2 separate regions of the Homo sapiens genome follow, and region 1 is linked to region 2. The links come from fine-mapping of genetic effects on gene expression. Tissue or cell type: whole blood. Region 2 holds a variant in brackets; the other region holds the start of a gene. All regions are shown on one strand. Distances are between the middles of the regions.

Region 1 (4,511 bases), 88 kb after region 2:
AGCACTATTAAACTCGCTTACCCTGAGGCTGAGTTCAGGGGGCTGGGAAGTTTCTAGTTCTGGGCACTTGCTCAGTTTTCACAATCCTTAGACGCTAGCTCACACTGCTTCCTTGACATGGTGTCTCTCACAGTTTAAACTGAATAGTTAAAAAACAATTTGGCAGGCCGGGTGCGCTGACTCACGCCTGTAATCCCAGCACTTTGGGAGGCTGAGGCTGGCGAATCACCAGCTCAGGAGTTCAAGACCAGCCTGGCCAACAAGGTGACACCCCGTCTCTACTAAAAAATACAAACAGTTGGGCATGGTGGCGGGCACCTGTAATCCCAGCTACTCAGGAGGCTGAGGCAGGAGAATTTCTTGAACCCGGGAGGCAGAGGTTGCAGTGAGCCGAGATTGCGCCGTTGCACCACAGCCTGGGTGACAGAGCGAGTCTCCGACTCAAAAAAATAAATAAAATAAAATAAAAATAAAATGGGCTCAATAAGAATCTCTAACACCTAAAGCAATGGTAAAACAAAGCCTTACCACCGCTATCTTCCTGTGCTGTATATAGGGCTATTCGCCAGAGCTGGAGGTATTCCAGGGAGGGAAAATTGTCCATGCTCTGGGTCTATCTATAACGCTGGATAAAAGATGCCTAGAACCTAGGCTGCAAATGTACAAGCTTTCCTCATTAAAGAATGGTAAAATGGGTCCCATTTGGTTTCATCAAAAAGGCAGCAAATCTTTCACAACTGAGGAAAACAGGTGAACCACGAGCTTCACATTCCAACAGAACTGTGGTACCTATGCTAGCCACAAAGATTATTTGTTGACTCAAATGTAAATTTAGATCTTTATCAATTTTACTAAATTCGCAAAGTATCCCTTTATATAGCATTTTGTACCAGTAATGAACAATTAGTATGCTCAGCGATGCTCAGGAGAGCCGCTCCAAAAACTTACATTATTCCCCAGACAAACGTTCTCTAGGGGCAGCCTTGCGTATTTCTACACCTTAGTAGACCTAAGTTAGGCGTTCAACACCTTGTCCTGGTCCAAGCCAGAAAGAACCCAGTAGTTCAGACTTTTCCCAGGTCAGAAAACCACGAAGGGCCTCCTCACACCCTGATTAAACGTTGGAAGCGGGCCCTGTGCTGTAATAACGCTCTGGCCACTCCCAAAAAAGCGAATCTTCGGGAGGAAAGCAGGCTCCCTTATTAGGGCTCACAGCACTCCGCTCAACTTACTGTAGGCGTCGGCTCCAGCAAGACTCGTCCCTCCAAGCCTTTAAATTATCTGACTGCGGGCCAGTAGCAAATGAACGGCACTGGTGGCGGTGGGGGATGGCTGCGCGAGTGAAATGACCTCCGTGTGTTTGCTAACCCCGCTATTATACTGCCCCGCTTAGAAACTTAAAGCGCTTCAGACATCAGATCTCACTCGCTTCCCAAATAGGCTTCCGTCCGCGCGGTCACAGCCCCTGGGCAGGCAGGAGCCCCGAGTGCACCAAGAACCCAGAGACCGTCCGGGGCTCGGCGCCTCCGCCTGCGGTTGGAATTTGATCCTCAAAATGCAATCATTTAATTGAAAAAGGACTAAAAGCTGCCTGTAGGCCGAATGCGTGGACGGCAGGGACTCAGGCACGGGAGGTGACGGGCGCCTGGCGGCTTCTGCTGAGTGGGGGTGGGATCCTCGAGGAAAGGGGGCGGCCCCTTCAAGCGCACAAGGACACGGGCCGTCCTAACCCGGGACGAAGGGCCCAAGCGCCACGAGGACGCCCCCACCCCCGAGGGGCCCTAACGGAGGCTTCCCCGCGGCGCCGAGCCGAGGCCTCGGCGTGGGGGCAGCGAGAGGCGCGCCTAGGAAGCGCACGGGGTAGCCCCGGAGCCACGTGGTCGGCTCCTGCGTCCAGAAGGTCCGAGCCCACTTACCCAGTCACGCGCCGCGGCCGAAAAGGGAGGGCACTGCGGAGATCAAGTTTAAAAGGGGCCTGGGCGGGGCGGCACCAACCAAAAAGTTGCCGGAAGGCCCCTCCGGGTCCAGCACCCGCCCCGCCCGCGGGGCCCGGAGGCCCTCGCGCGCCCCCTGTCGGCGGCCCGGGCCTTCCCCGCCTTGGGCCCCCCCCCCCACCCCACACGGCCCCGGCTCCCACTTGGCCCCGGCTCCCACTTTGCCCCGGCCTCCGAGTCTGGGGAGTCTGCCCCAAACTCTCGCTGGCTGTGATGTCTCTTTACCTCGTTGAAGGTCAGAGGAAGCTCCTGCCACTCAAATAATGTTAGGTGTCTCTGGTACCCACTCCCCTCCCTTGCCTGGTGTTTCTTAAAGTCTTCAGCCACGCCCCTGGGTGCTTCTTTCAAGACTCGTCTAATTACGTAGCAGAAGACTGGCTCCCGTTAAAGGATGTGAACATTAGCGGAGGTCGGGGGTGCAAACTCATCGAAGAGGGGTTGAAGCACGGGGAGGACTCCTGGTGCCTGGAGTGCTGCATGCTTAGAATGATGGCCACGGCCCGCAAATATCTTGCCCCCAAAGCACGTCTGTGTCATTGGACTGTGAGGAGGAAGGGGAGAAGGTATTCTGACTGCAGTAAAATAAGCAGGTCTGTTGGCTGGATGCCTAAGCAGCACTACATATAGAACATGAGTGTTAAGGACTGAATTTGTCCCCACTCCCAAAGACATTGAAGACCTAACCTCCAGCACCTGTGAATGCGACCTAACTTGGAAAAACTGCGTCTTTACAGATGTGGTCAAGACGAGATCATTGGGGTGGACCCTCCTAATTCAACATGACTGATGTCCTTATCACACGGTGTCAAAATGCCACTTGAAGACAGAGACACACGAAAATGTGGCGGGACAGGGGCAGATCAGAGTGATGCAGCTGTAAGCCCAGGAATGCGGTGGATTGCCGGCCACCACCGGAGAAAGGCTAGGAAGAGGCAAGGAAGGACCCTCCCCTGCAGATTTCAGAGGGAGCTTGGTGTTTGGTTCTGCTGACACTTTGATTTTGGACTTCTAGTCACAAGAAATGTGAGACAAAACATTTCTGTTAAGTCACCGAGTGCTTTGTTAAGGCATCCCTAGGGAATTAATACAAGGACTGTGGGGACTTTCCCTCTGCCGTTCTGTGTAAAATCTGGCCATAAAGACATTATTTGACTTCCCTTGTTTGACTGTAGGTCATAAGACCCCCATTCCAGAGGGAGTCCTGTCCCATACCCAGAAGGAAAGAGTGCATGCTCAGAGAGGCCAAGAAGAATCCAGACAGACAGGCCTTGCTGGGTTTTCTCCCTCTATTAGTCTTAGATCATACACTTTTTGTCCGATCACATTTCTACGTCACTGCCCATACTTTGTTGAACCTAGGCATAAAAATGGATAATTTCCCCTGTATCTTTGGGTCTTCATTTGAAGGATCCCGGGTATACACATTAAATACATTTATATGCTTTTTCTCCAATTAATCTGCCTTTTGCAAGTTGATTTTTTAGTGAACCTTAAGAGGGCAAAGGGAAAACTTTCCATGTTGGCCCCTACAGATTGCTCAGTGCAGCAAATACTTATTGAGTGCCTATTCTATGCCAGGTGCTGTGATTGGTGTTGGAGGGTGTGAAGTTCAATGAGAAACTGCCCCTGCACTAAAGTGAGGAATATAAAATGAGATTCACCCACTGATAGAAGCCCATGAAGAGTGCCAAGGGCACAGCATAAAGCCACAAAGCCCAGCCTGCTAAGGCTACAGGAAAGGCTTCCAGAAGGAAGAGGTACCTATTAGTACAATGAGTGTAGCATGACCAGCAGGAAACTCATATGCTGCATGAAATTTAGGAGAGGAAAGAAGCAAAGAGGCCAAGAGAGTTACAGAAAAATCATAGGATAATAGAGTGCAGGGGACTTTAATAGGTCATCTAGGATTATTCTCTGGTGGGTGGAGCTGGTCTTAGGGTGTTGTCATGCAGAGTTGCCATGATGGTGCAATGTAGGCTCCATGAGAACTCTGTTTCCTTCTCTACTGAATCCCCCGAATTCAGTGTAAACGCCTAGAATATATTTAGATAAGGGGAAAAACTCCTTATCTAAATATCCTTATCAGAGGAAGAGATTATTCCCCCAAAGCAGTTCAATATTCATACCATAAAACTCTTCAAGGCTGATAATGGGGCAGTAGTGGGGTTTTATCCCAGGCGGTAGCTTCCTTGGGTCACCTTGAGTGTGAATTTATTCCTGTATTCCCAGTACCTGGCCTAGGGCTTTGCACATTGTAAATGCTTGATAAAACCTACTGAATTTCCTTTTCTTGCTGTCCATTTGACTTGTCTTTCACACATGTGGTGAACTACAGATATTCCCTGACTTACAATGGTTTGATTTATGTTTTTTTTTTTTTTTTTTACTTTGTGATGGTGCAAAAGCAATACGTAGCTCAGTAGAAAGTGTGCTTCAAGTATCCGTACAACCATTCTGTTTTTCACTTTCGGTACAGTGTTCAATAAATTACATGAGATATTCAACACTTTATTCTAA
Region 2 (4,000 bases):
TATCACTGTGAATTTACAGATGTCTTTTTGTCATTCTTTAACAATGAATTTCCCCTGTGCATAGTTATTAATAGTATTGGTATTATTAAAAACTAATTTGGCATTTTAAGATTGGCATTTTAAGCAAGTTGAGGTGCTTAGGAAACATTGTAGAATAAGTTTGGGGAAATGTTAGCTGACAGAGCTGAGAGATCAGATTTTCATGTTCTATCACTGTAATGGAACCTCATTTAGACCTCTCTAGACCTTTGCTAGCTGTGTGGTCTGAGGACCAGTAAGTAGGATTGGCATTATCTGGTATCTTGTTAAAAATGCAGAATTTCATGCCACTCTAGGTCTACTAAATCAGAATTTGCATTCTTAACAAGGTTCCCAAGTGATTTTTATGAGAAGAAAGTATCAGAGTGCAAACAAATTACTCGTCTAATATGTAGAATTCCCAGTGGTCTCACAGCCCTAGATCAAATGTGTCAGACACTAGATCATTATAATCTTCATTGGTTTTGACAGCTAATTAATTAGTTTAATAATATTGACATATGGCTTCTTAAGTATTTGAATTCTAGATTGCTAATGATCCTTATTTTTGCAGTAAAAAAGTAACACTTTATATTTTTCTTGTTAACTATAAATGGAATCAGAGCTGTAAATGCCTGAAATTTTAAGTGTGAAAAGGGGTGCCACCCTTTTATATACTGCACAACAAATTTGCATTTGTATATTCTTTTTAAAAAATCTCTGAAGACTTGCTCAGTGAAATGGTTCTGATTTTTTGCTTCAAATGATTTGCACTAATTGATTTTCTGGAGAGCGGAGTTACGTTAACAACAAAATTCTTTTATAGTTCCTTTGATACTATTTCAAATAAGGATTACACATTGAAAGTTTTTATAGAAATTATGAAAATTGGATAATCTTAACTATGGTAACCATTACTATTATCCATACTACTTTCTCCCCACTGAACTTTCAAATTTGAAAATTGGGGTAGCTTTTGTAGGTCACTTTCTTATAAAGATGCTGATGGTCACAGATCTCCTAAGTATCCAGAATAATATTTTTATCATGAGAAGGATTCCACACAAAATTGGGGTCTTGCACCCCATATTTCAGAGGATCTGAACAGAAATTGTGGCTTCATTGCACATTTTAAATCTCTATAGATTCTTGAAATCACCCAACCTCTCACATTTGAAAACCCAACGGCCTGGAGTATTCTGGTGGCACTGGAGCCAGCACTAGCTTTTTGGAATCCAAGTGGGGAGAGAAACAAAAATAGACTTTTCAAGGGACTGTCCCAGACTACCCAGGGCAAATGTCTTCCCTTCCCTTCCTGAAGCCACAGGAAAGCACCCTGGAGTCCTTTGTATACCACTATGGAAATTTTTAAGGCAAGCTCTCAAGACTTGAAGAGTTGGAATTCTCGGCATTTAAATGATGCCTGAAGTTTGTTTTGAAAAAGCAATATTTCATTGCTCTTTTCAATTGTGAAGCAACTGCTCAGCAAATATTACTCATTTTTTTAAAAAGTTGAATTAAAGGGAAATATATTTTTAAAACCAAAATAGATCAAAATGATCCCAGTTTTAAGGGATTTTGCCTATTTTGGAAGAATAAAACTAAAATGTTAAAACTGTTGAATTACAGAGAACAGATGTACTCTGAGACATAATTTTAAACAAATATTTAAAATAAGGCAGGTTAACATTTGCGTTTAGGCACAATAAATCTGTATTAAAGGGAAGCACATCAAGGAAATATATACATGTTGAATAATGTAACTGAAAAATATTTTTTAAAAACCACTTAAAAAGAAAAATAATTTGATGGGTACTTTAAGCATTGTAGATAGAAATTAATGTATAATAGTGTCCTCCCAGTCTTTGTATGAAAAATTAAAACTCTCTAGTC[C/T]TTTAATGAGCATGAATTTATACTTCTACATTTGTTGCTTAGTAAAATTATACTCAGTACTTTGAGTTATTCAGATTTATGTTTAATATTGTTAAATTCTTCATCAGAGAGCATAAATATATTGTCTTCTATACTTTGTAACTTGTGCATATCTAAAGAAACTAACAACGAACATTTTGGGAGATGTTTTTGTGTTTTTTTATAGTAGAGTTTTAGAGTACATTTGTCTTAATAGGAAGTTTTTACCATAAACCCAAGATTTTATTTCACGTATTGTTGCTTTCTCTTATATGGAACTTATTGTGTACCTCTTACCTTTATTTCTAATCATTTAGTGATACTAATCTTTTCATAGTAAATATATTTGTTTCTAATTGTATTCCTAGAGTTTACATTCCTAAAGAATAAACGACGACTTTGGCTATTTTTGTGTGTTCCCTACCTTCTTAAGGCTATGGAAATAAACTGGAGTTTAGTTTTTTGAATTTTTGTATATTTGTGTAAATGTTCTCCATATGTAGTACTTTATACAACAAGTGTTGCCTCTTGTTTTATTGAAATAAAAACTGAAAAAAATATTTTTTCCAGATCAGTTTACTCATTTAAAAAATTATTATAAAAATTTGCAGAAGTTTTGATATGAAGGAAGAGAATAAAGGAGGAAGACTTAGGTAAGTTGAGCCATTGAGAGCTTTTGGGGGTAAGTGATAAGACAATGACCTCATTCCTGGCTTTGTGCTTTACATGTCATAGGGCTGAGGAGTATGACAGGTCCACTCGTATTCATCCAAAGATGAAGATGAGCTCTATGGGCCATGCACCAGTGGCGGATTATTTGTCATATCAGAAGCACAGGCAAATTTAGGTAACATCACTTTGTCCTTCTAACTTTAGAATCTTTATTGCCATGTGTGGTGAGTAGTAGTCCCAACTACTCAGGAGGTTCACTCGAGCCCAGGAATTTGAGACCAGCCTGGGCAATATAACGAGATCTTATCTCTTAAAAAAAAAAAAAAAGCAAAAGAAGAAGAAAGAGTCTATATCTCTTGAGTACAGAGATTATATGCCCCTAGTACCTAGATAGGACTTTGTGCGTGGTAGGTATCTAGACATTTATGAGACAATAAATGAGTTAGGTTGATGTTAGCTTTGGAAAAGAATCAAGGATAAGTCTTCAGTGTTTTCTTTAACAGTACAATTTTAGAATTTTGTTTGTTGGCTTTAGGAAATCTCAGTGGCATTACATGAATTGCATTATAGCATGTACTTAGAAAAAAGAACTTATGGCTGGGTGCGGTGGCTCACACCTGTAATCCCAGCCTTTTGGGAGGCCGAGGTGGGTGGATCACCTGAAGTCAGGAGTTCAAGACCAGCCTGACCAACATGGCGAAACCCCATCTCTACTAAAAATACAAAAATTAGCCAGGCATAGTGGCGGGCACCTGTAGTCCCAGCTACTCAGGAGGCTGAGGCAGGAGAATCACTTGAATCTGGGAGGCGGAGGCTGCAGTGAGCCGAGATCATGCCACTGTACTCCAGCCTGGGCAACAGAGTGAGACTCTATCTCAAAAAAAAAAAAAAAAAAAAAAAAAAAAAAAAACAGAACCTATTAACCTATTAGACACTTGAAAAAATTCCTGGCTTGTAGTTGATTATATGTTTGGTTAATTCCATTTCATCTAAGGAACTAAGTAATTTAGGAAATGTGTTCTTAACTACTCTTAGAAGGGTACTTGTAGAGAACCAGAGTGGTGATTTTGTAAGCAGTATTTTGTCCTATACAATATGCACTCTTCCAGTAACTCCAGTAGTCCACATAGCTGACTCACCTCCTACAACCCGACTTTGTTAATATCAAGATAACTGTTTTATAATTGTAGAGAAAGATTTTTTACAACCAGTTGTAGTTATTATTTTCTTTGCATTATGTTATTGTGATAGTAGTGGTAGCTAATATGTGTAATTAAAATGATCATCTTATCCTCAAAATCATCCTATAAAGTGCATAGAATCCCCATTTTACAGAAGAGGAAACTGAAGCTCTCAATAGGGTAGAGGACTTGGCTAAGGTCACCTAGCTGCTGAGTGG

The links. PIP is the estimated chance that this variant, and not a neighbour inherited with it, causes the effect. A credible set is the group of variants that fine-mapping cannot tell apart.
Region 1: it holds the start of SNHG26, and the variant in region 2 is the best candidate, but not a certain one, in a credible set for the expression of SNHG26 in whole blood (INTERVAL, PIP 0.50).

The regions. Positions count from the first base shown.
Region 1 is chr7:22,851,686-22,856,196 of GRCh38, reverse strand. SNHG26 (small nucleolar RNA host gene 26) reads right to left here and starts at 1,957. Exons shown (of 5, transcript NR_146320.1): 1 at 1,917-1,957. RefSeq lists enhancers at 953-1,182, 974-1,585 and a silencer at 1,683-2,142.
Region 2 is chr7:22,939,748-22,943,747 of GRCh38, reverse strand. It overlaps HYCC1 (hyccin PI4KA lipid kinase complex subunit 1), which reads left to right. Exons shown (of 11, transcript NM_032581.4): 11 at 1-4,000. Among named protein-coding and RNA genes, the nearest start is that of HYCC1, 72 kb to the left of the region's middle. The variant C/T (reference allele first, on the strand shown) is at 1,912.